Regions from separate parts of the Homo sapiens genome. Here region 2 is linked to region 1. The links come from fine-mapping of genetic effects on gene expression. Tissue or cell type: lung. Region 1 holds a variant in brackets; the other region holds the start of a gene. All regions are shown on one strand. Distances are from middle to middle. Region 1 overlaps RNF24 (ring finger protein 24). Region 2 holds the start of RNF24 (ring finger protein 24).

What was found.
Region 2: it holds the start of RNF24, and the variant in region 1 is fine-mapped to the expression of RNF24 in lung (TOPMed, PIP above 0.99). The same link has a PIP of 0.9 or more in blood mononuclear cells.

What each region holds. Positions count from the first base shown.
Region 1 is chr20:3,952,063-3,956,457 of GRCh38, reverse strand. All of the region lies in intron 2 of RNF24 (ring finger protein 24), which reads left to right. Among named protein-coding and RNA genes, the nearest start is that of MIR103B2, 37 kb to the right of the region's middle. The variant G/T (reference allele first, on the strand shown) is at 2,339.
Region 2 is chr20:4,013,559-4,017,953 of GRCh38, reverse strand. RNF24 (ring finger protein 24) reads left to right here and starts at 2,396. Exons shown (of 6, transcript NM_001134337.3): 1 at 2,396-2,517. RefSeq lists enhancers at 669-1,270, 1,474-2,406 and a silencer at 2,290-2,889.

The sequences.
Region 1 (4,395 bases):
AAAATATAAATTACTAATATCACTAATGAAAAAGGGACATTATTACAAATCCTATAAACATTAAAAGGTCACAAAGAATATTATGCATTTATGGCAATAAACTTGAAATTTTGGGTGAATTACATAGATTCCTAACAAAAAAAGAGGTGTATCAAAACTGACACAAGAAAGGGCATTTATTAAAAAAAAAAAAACACACACACAACTTAACATTGTACTTTCTGGTAATAGACGGAAAGCTTTCCCCTAAGATCAGAACACAATAAGAATGCCCACTTTACCACTACTGTTCAGCATTGTACTGGAAGTTCTAGCCAGAACAATTAGGCAAGAAAAAGAAATAGAAGGCATCTAACTAGAAAGAAGTAACTATCTCCATTTGCAGATGATATGATCCTATACAGAGAAAATCCCGTAGGATCCACACACACACAAAAAAAACTACTGGAACTAATAAATTCAGCAAACTTTCAGAGTCTAAGATCAATACACAAAAATCAGTTGTGTTTCTGTGCATCAACAATGAACAATCTGAAAAGGAAATAAAGGAAACAATCCCATTTACAATAGCATCCAAAAGAATAAAATTTTAAGGAATAAAGTTAACCAGGGAAGTGAAAGACTTATACCCTGAAAACTACAAAACATTGCTGAAAGAAATTAAAGAAGACCTAAATAAATGTAAAGGCACCCCATGTTCATGGATTTATATCGTCTTTATATAGTTACAGTGTCAATATTTTCCAAGGCAATCTACAGATTCAGTGCAATCCCTATCAAAATTCTAATGGCCTTTTTTTACAGAAATAGAAAAAGCAATCCTCAAATTCATTTGGAACTGGGGCCCCAAATAGCCAAAGCAGTTTTGAAAAAGAAAAACAAATAGAAGGACTCACACTTCCTGATTTCAAAACTTCAGAAAGCTACTGTAATCAAAAAATTGTGGTACTGGTATAAAGATAGACATATAAACCAATAAAATAGAATTGAGAGTCCAGAAATAAATCCAAACATCTATGACAAATTGATATGCAAATAAGGGTGCCAAGATCATTCAATGGGGAAAGAATTGTTTCTTCAACCAATGGTACTGGGAAGCTGGATATTAACATGCGAAACATTTGTACATCAAAGGACATCAAGAAAGTGATAAGGCAACCTACAGAATGGGAGAAAAATATTTACAAGTCCTATCTGATAAGGGTTTAATACCCAGAATATATTAAAAGCTCTTAAAATTTAACAGCAAAAAGACAACCCAATTTAAAAATGGGCAAAAGACTTAAACAATTCTCCAAAGAAGTTACACAAATGGCCAACAAGCACATGAAAAGATGTTTGACATTATTGGTCATTAAGGAATTCCAAATTAAAAACACAATGAGATACCACTTCACACCTACTAGGATGCTGTAATCAAAAACAGAAAAATAACAAGTGTTAATGAGGATGTGGAGAAATAAGAACTTGCATATATTGCTGGTAGAAATGCAAAATGATGCAGCTGCTGTGAAAAAGAGTTTGGTGGATCTTCAAACAAATTCTTTTTTTTTTTTCTTGAGATGGAGTCTCGCACTGTCACCCGGGCTAGAGTGCAATGGCGCGATCTCGGCTCACTGCAATCTCTGCCTCCCAGGTTCATGCAATTCTCCTGCCTCAGCCTCCCAAGTAGTTGGGATTACAGGCGCCTGCCACCACACCCAGCTAATTTTTTGTATTTTTAGTAGAGACGGAGTTTCACTATGTTGGCCAGACTTGAACTCCTGACCTCATGATCCACCTGCCTCAGCCTCCCAAAGTGCTGGGATTACAGGCATGAGCCACCATACCTGGCCAGTTCTTCAAAATATTAAACCATGTGACCCAGATTTTCATTCCTAGGTATATACCCAAGACAAATGAAAATATATGTCCACACAGAAACGTGTACAGAAATGTTTCATAATAGCCAAAAGGTATAAACAACCCAAATGTCCATCGACAGATGAATGGATAATTGTATGTACATACAATGGAATATTATTCAGCCATAAAAAGAAGTGAAGTACTGATACATACTACAACCAGGATGAACCTCAAAAACATGCTAGGTGGAAAGCCATACACAAAAGGCCATATATTGCATTGTTCCTTTTATATGATATATCCATAATAGGCAAATCTATAGAGACAAAAAGCAGATAAGAGGTTGCAGGGGATAGAAGTAAGGGGTAATGGGGAGTGATCAGTGAATGGGGTACCAGGTGTTTTGTTGGAGTGATGAAAAATTTTGAAACTAGAGATAGCTGGTAGATGGACAACATTGTGAGTACACTACTTACCACTGAATTGTATACTT[G/T]AAGGCGGTTAGTTGTAATGTGAGTAAAAATAAAAGAATGAAATTTTTAAAAAGAAAAAACCGGGGCCGGGCATGGTGGCTCACTCCTGTAATCCCAGCACTTTGGGAGTCTGAGGCAGGGGATCACCTGAGGTCAGGAGTTCGAGACCAGCCTGGCCAACATGGTGAAACCCCATCTCTACTAAAAATATAAAAATTAGCTGGACGTGGTGGCACACACCTGTATTCTCAGCTATTCAGGAGGCTGAAACAAGAGAATCACCTGAACCCGGGAGGTGGAGGTTGCAGTGAGCCAAGATTGTGCCACTGTACTCCAGCCTGGGCGACAGAGTGAGACTCTGTCTCAAAAAAAAAAAAAAACTACTACAAGAAATTGAAAATATGAATAATTATATATCTAATACGAAAAAGAGACAGATCACGAGGTCAGGAGATCGAGACCATCTTGGCCAACATGGTGAAACCCCATCTTTACTAAAATACAGAAATTAGCCGGGCGTGGTGGCATGTGTCTGTAATCCCAGCTACATGGGAGGCTGAGGCAGGGGACTTGCTTGAACCTGGGAGGCGGAGGTGGCAGTGAGCTGAGATTGCGCCACTGCATTCCAGCCTGGGCAACAGAGCAAGACTCCGTCTCAAAAAAAAAAAAAAAGAGAGAATGTGTTTTGGGCCAGGCACGGTGGCTCATGCTGTAATCCCAGCACTTTGGGAGGCTGAGGCAGGCAGATCACAAGGTCAGGAGATGGAGACCATCCTGGCTAATATGGTGAAACCTCGTCTCTACTAAAACTACAAAAAAAATTAGCCGGGCGTGGTGGCGGGTGTCTGTAGTCCCAGCTACTCGGGAGGCTGAGGCAGGAGAATGGCGTGAACCCAGGAGGCGGAGCTTGCAGTGAGCCGAGATCACGCACTGCACTCCACGCTGGGTGACAGAGTGAGACTCCGTCTCCAAAAGAAAAGAAAGGAAAATTGAATGTATTTTTAAAACATTCCCACAATGATATTTTAAGCCAAGTAACTCATCCAAACATTTAAGGAAAAAAATACCACTCCAATATGACACTTCCAGAGAATAAAAGTGGAACAAATACTTCTCAGCTCATTTCATGAGGCCAGCATAATTGTGATTTCAAAGCCTGACAAGGATATTATGAGAAAGGAAATTATAGACCGATCCTTTTCATCAGCAAAATATTGTAAATCAAATTCAGGGATCTACAAAAAAGGTAGAATATTACAACCAAATGAGGTTTGTTCCAAGAACGAGAGTTATTTTAACATTTGAAAAGCAATCAATACAATATAGCACATTAATAGTATAATATCATAAAGCATTGATAAAATTTAATACCTATTCATGATTTTTTTTGGTAAACTAGTACTACAAGAGAACTTTCTAAAATTTGAAAGAGTATCTACAAAAAATATCTAAAGAAAACATCATACTTAATAGTGATGTATTGATAGGGACATTCACTATCACTTTTATTTAGCATCATACTGGAGGGCCTAGCTAGTCAGTGCAAAAAAAAAAAAACGGGAAAAAAGAATAAAAGAAAAGTGTATTTAGAAAAGAAGCAAATAAAGATTATAAAGGCAGTGTTTAAATTGTGATTATATGCAGACAACATAATTGTGTACATTAAAAAATCCAAAAGTTTTTACAGAGAAACTATTTAGAATTAGCAAGCCACCAGATACAGGATCAATATACAAAAATTACTTTTTTCCATATAGGTAGCAAGAAATAATTAGAAAATAAAGATTTTTTTCAACACTATTTACAGTAGCATCAAAAATTACCAAATGTCTAGGAGAAATGTGTAAGAGAAAAATTAAAGCTGTAAATAAAGAAATAATGTTCATAGGTTAGACACTCAGTCTTGCAAAGATGTCAGTTCTTCCTCAGTTGGTCTGTGAATTTTGTACATTCTTACTCAAAACCCCAAGAGGGTTTTTTTTTTTTTCTGGTGGAAATTGAAATCTATATGGAACTGCAGAGAACCAAGAATAACCAAGCCAGTCATTCAAAAGAATAAAACTTGAGGACTTTTGCT
Region 2 (4,395 bases), 61 kb before region 1:
CCCTACACATACATAGCCCCCCCATTATAAACATTCTCCCACGGGAGCATTTATTACTATTGTTGGACCTACATTGGCACATCATTATCACCCAAAATCCATGTTTACATTAGAGTTTGCTGCTGGTATTATTCATTCTATGGATTTAGACAAATGTGTCATGACAGGTATCCACCATTATGGTATCATACACAGAGTATTTTCACTGCCCTAAAAAGCATCTGTGGATTTTCAGAGAAAAGAGCAACTTTTGCATGCTAGGTAAGTATTGCTTTCCTAGTAGGGGAACAGCAGGAAACAGCAGTCACCTTGGTGACTACTGAGGTGAAACACCATGGTGCTGTTCTGTAAATGGCTGGAAAATAAGGCTCAAGGAGCCAGATGGGGCAGGGAAAAAGAAAAAGACAGAAACACAGGCAGATTTGAATACCATGAGAATCGATTTGCATGAGAATGGATTGAGACTTCTGCAACAGCCCAGGGGAGAGATGAGGGGGCTGATTTAGAACAGTGAGAGGTTTGAGCAAAGCAAAGTTGAAAAGACCCTCCAGGTAACTGCTATGATTGACAGCAAGGAGGGCAGTGTTCCCCCAGCACAGCCCTGGCACAGGCAGCTCTAGAGGAAGCCTGGGTCTCCCACTCCCTTCCTTTTGCCACAGTCTCCCTAGCACATGCCTCCACCCTTCTCTCACTTTGGGGGACTGTGACCATTGGGTGGCAGGTGACTTCTTGAGAAATTCACTAATGTTTCCCTCTTTACTTCCTCCCTGCCTTGGTGGTTAATGGTTTGCCAAAGCAGAAGGAACATGCCTCTAGGCGCTTGCCATGATGACTTTTGCTTCCCAAAGTTAAGCTACTGAGCTGTTTATGGTTTATGTGATGGGGCCTGAGAGATTAGGAGAAGGAAGGAGAACTTCTGGGGGACACATGGAGACTGAGGAAGAGGGGGCAATCATTTTTGCAAGCTCTGAGCTGCAGCGCACACACAGTCAGCTGTGGAGCTTCACAGCCATTCCCTCTGCAGGCTCCTAGCCTCTCCAGAAACTTCCGTACCCCAGGAGTGGCAGACACAAGGCGATGGGAACAAGAGAGTATCTGCAGAATACACTGCCTGCTAAAGACAAGAGAGGACTCCCCAGATCCTTGCCTTGGTATTGCAGGAAGAGCTCAGCCTCCCAAAATCGGAGGTCAATTTATTGCCTGCCCTGTAGAATGGGAGCCGGAGGTTGAGGAGTGGATGTAAATAAAGGAATGCACTGTTTCTTGCACACACCTCTCTCCACTATCTGGGCAGAGTCTAGGTCTCATCCATCACCAAGGTTCTAGCACTCAGCTGAGAGGCTGCAGCAGGAGGGGCAGATGGAGGAGGGTGCGGTGCATACCATCTCCCCATCAAACCAATGGGCACCACGTGACCATTCTTGTGTCTCTGGGGACTGTCAATCTGCATGCTAGGAAAGGGGTGGCATTCCAATCTTTCATTTTTTTGTGTGTGAGACGGAGTCTTGCTCTGTCACCCAGGCTGGAGTGCAATGGTGCGATCTTGGCTCACTGCAACCTCCGCTCCCCGGGTTCAAGAGATTTTCCTGCCTTAGCCTCCCGAGTAGCTGGGATTACAGGCATGAGCCACCACACCCAGCTAATTTTGTATTTTTAGTAGAGACAGAGTTTCTCTATGTTGGTCAGGCTGGTCTGGAACTCCTGACCTCAGGTGATCCACCCGCCTTGGCCTCCCAAAGTGTTGGGATTACAGGCGTGAGCCACTGCGCCCGGCCCCATGCTTTCACTTTTAAAAATGCTTGTAGGGCACGCAAAAATACTAAACGGTCGATGGAGAAGGTCTGTCTGGAGTAGTTGTTTTTTTTTTTTTTTTTTGAGACAGAGTCTCGCTCTGTCGCCCAGGCTGGTGTGCAGTGGCACGATCTCGGCTCACTGCAAGCTCCGCCTCCCAGGTTCAGGCGATTCTCCTGCCTCAGCCTCCCAAGTAGCTGGGACTACAGGCGCCCGCCACCACACCCGGCTAATTTAATTTTTTGTATTTTTAGTAGAGACGGGGTTTCATCGCGTTAGCCAAGATGGTCTCGATCTCCTGACCTCGTGATCTGCCCGCCTCAGCCTCCCAAAGTGCTGGGATTACAGGCGTGAGCCACCTCGCCCGGCCTGTCTGGCGTAGTTCTAACCAGGAACAGAGCCAGCGGCCAGGGCCGCACCAGGCCTGGCCAGGGAGCGCCGCGCCTGCGCACTGCAGACTCTGAAGCCGCCGAGCCCTCCGCCGAGGTGGGTGGGGAAACTGCCCGGGCATCCGGGTCCCTCACCCCGCCCCCGCTGCATGAATGAGAGGCGCGGCGCCCGCCCCTCCCCCGGCGGGCCCGCCCCTCGCGAGGGGCCGCCGGGCGCAGTCAGCCGCCGCCACCTCCGCCGCGCTCTGTCCGGACGGACGCTCGCCGCCCGCAGCCTGCCGCCCGCCGCAGGGCGCTGACGGTCCCGCACGTCTGCCGCTGCCACCGGCGCGCCCGAGTAAGTGAGCGAGCGAGGGCGGGAGCGCCGCGGCCGCCGCCCCCGGGCTGGGGTTTGGGGGACCGAGCCGCTCCGGGTTCGGGATGCTGAGGAGACCGCGGGCCCGCGCCAGCCTCCCACACACACACACTCTCCCGGCGCCTCGGCCGGCCGGGCGCGGTGTGCAGGGGTGAGGCGGTGTCTCCAGGCTGAGGAGGGACGCGGAGGAGGGTCCGGCGCGGCCCCGGGACTGGAGGGTGAGTCCCTCACAAAGGGCGGAGCGGGGCTGTCACCTGGAGATCACGGAGGGAAGGTGCGTGGGCCCCCGCACGTCCTGCTCGCCCAAGCCCTGGCATCGGGTCCCCGGGCGTGGGAGGCGGCTGGGATGAGCTGGGAGGCTAGGAGGAGGATGGCGAGGACGCTGCCCCCGCGTTGGCGGTGGGCGCGCGCCTTGGGGGGTGCGGCGTGGCAGTGTTTTCCTGGTCCCCGTCCACTCCTCCCCTTTCTTTGTGGCGCTTGTCTCGTGCCCCGTTGTCACAGTGTGCATGGCAGTGGTCGGGGTGGAGACCTCTTCCCTCGGCTTACTCATTAATGAAAGTCACCATCTGTGGGCAGGGGGCGTGTGTGGTTCCACAGGCCGGAGAATTAAGGACCCTCCTTTGTTTCTGGAGACCTAATGATGTGTGTGTGTGTGTGTGTGTGTGTGTGTGTGTGTGTGCGCATTCAAGTGAAAGGGACATCTATGAAATGAGAGAATCAGAGATTGTCAAAAAGGGTATGAGGAAAAGGGGAGGGGATATAACTTCATCACACCTTTACCCAATTCTTTACCTGATGTTATTTCAAACAGTTTTTTCTCACTGTAAAACCAGTGGGTTTTATTCATTGGAAATGTGCATCTAAATTCTCATATATCTGTGTTTCTAGAATACTTTGCCTTTTTGGGCTTAGTTAATGGTAAGATTCTCATGTCTGTCTACATAGGAATACTCCACCGTACAGGACACTGCTTTCTGGGTTTAGTTCATTGATAATTTGTCCGAATGCTCATAAACATGTCTATAGGAATACTCCAATATATCTAGGACACAGTTTTCTCCGCTCCTGAATACAGGCAGATTTTGTTTCTTTCTGCCTCCCTGTGTTAATGAGAAGGTAGTCCAGCAGGTTCTCTCTACCTCCTTGCTTTTTTTTCCCCTTAATGCTTTGGCAGAGGGTTTTATTGCATATTACCCTGGCATGCGCCCTTGCTTTGATGTGAATTTTCCTGTGTTCTGTTGTCTGGTTGTACAGCCCAGCTCAATGGCTCCTCTTACAGGACTACTGGAAAACAGAACACCTTTTTTCATTGTCCTCATCTCCAGAGAGAGAAGGAAGCGCTGTAGGTTCCCACAAACGTTGACTCTGTCAGACTGCCTGCCTGACTTTGTTGTGTTGGTAAAGTTATGAAGAGTTGCAGTTGTTGTAGACCAATTAAAAAGAGGCTATTGGGATAACACCAGCTCTTCCTTGCTATTTTGGTTTTAAAACAAATGATATGAATTTTGCAAGATAGTTGTTAACTCTGGTTGCATGATGATTTTCAGTTTCTTTTTACCCATATACTTTTACAGGGTGTTGGGAAATTAGCCACTCATTTACAAGAAACACACCTCCAAGGTATTTTTATTATGGGTCGGGTGCGGTGGCTCACACCTGTAATCCCAGCACTTTGGGGGGCCGAGGTGGGTGGATCACCAGAGGTCAGAAGTTTGAGACCAGCCTGGCCAACATGGTGAAACCCTGTCTCTACTAAAAAAATACAAAAAATTAGCCGGGCATGGTGGCGAGCGCCTGTAATTCCAGCTACTCGGGAGGCTGAGGCAGGAGAATCGCTTGAACTCCCGGAGGCGGAGGTTG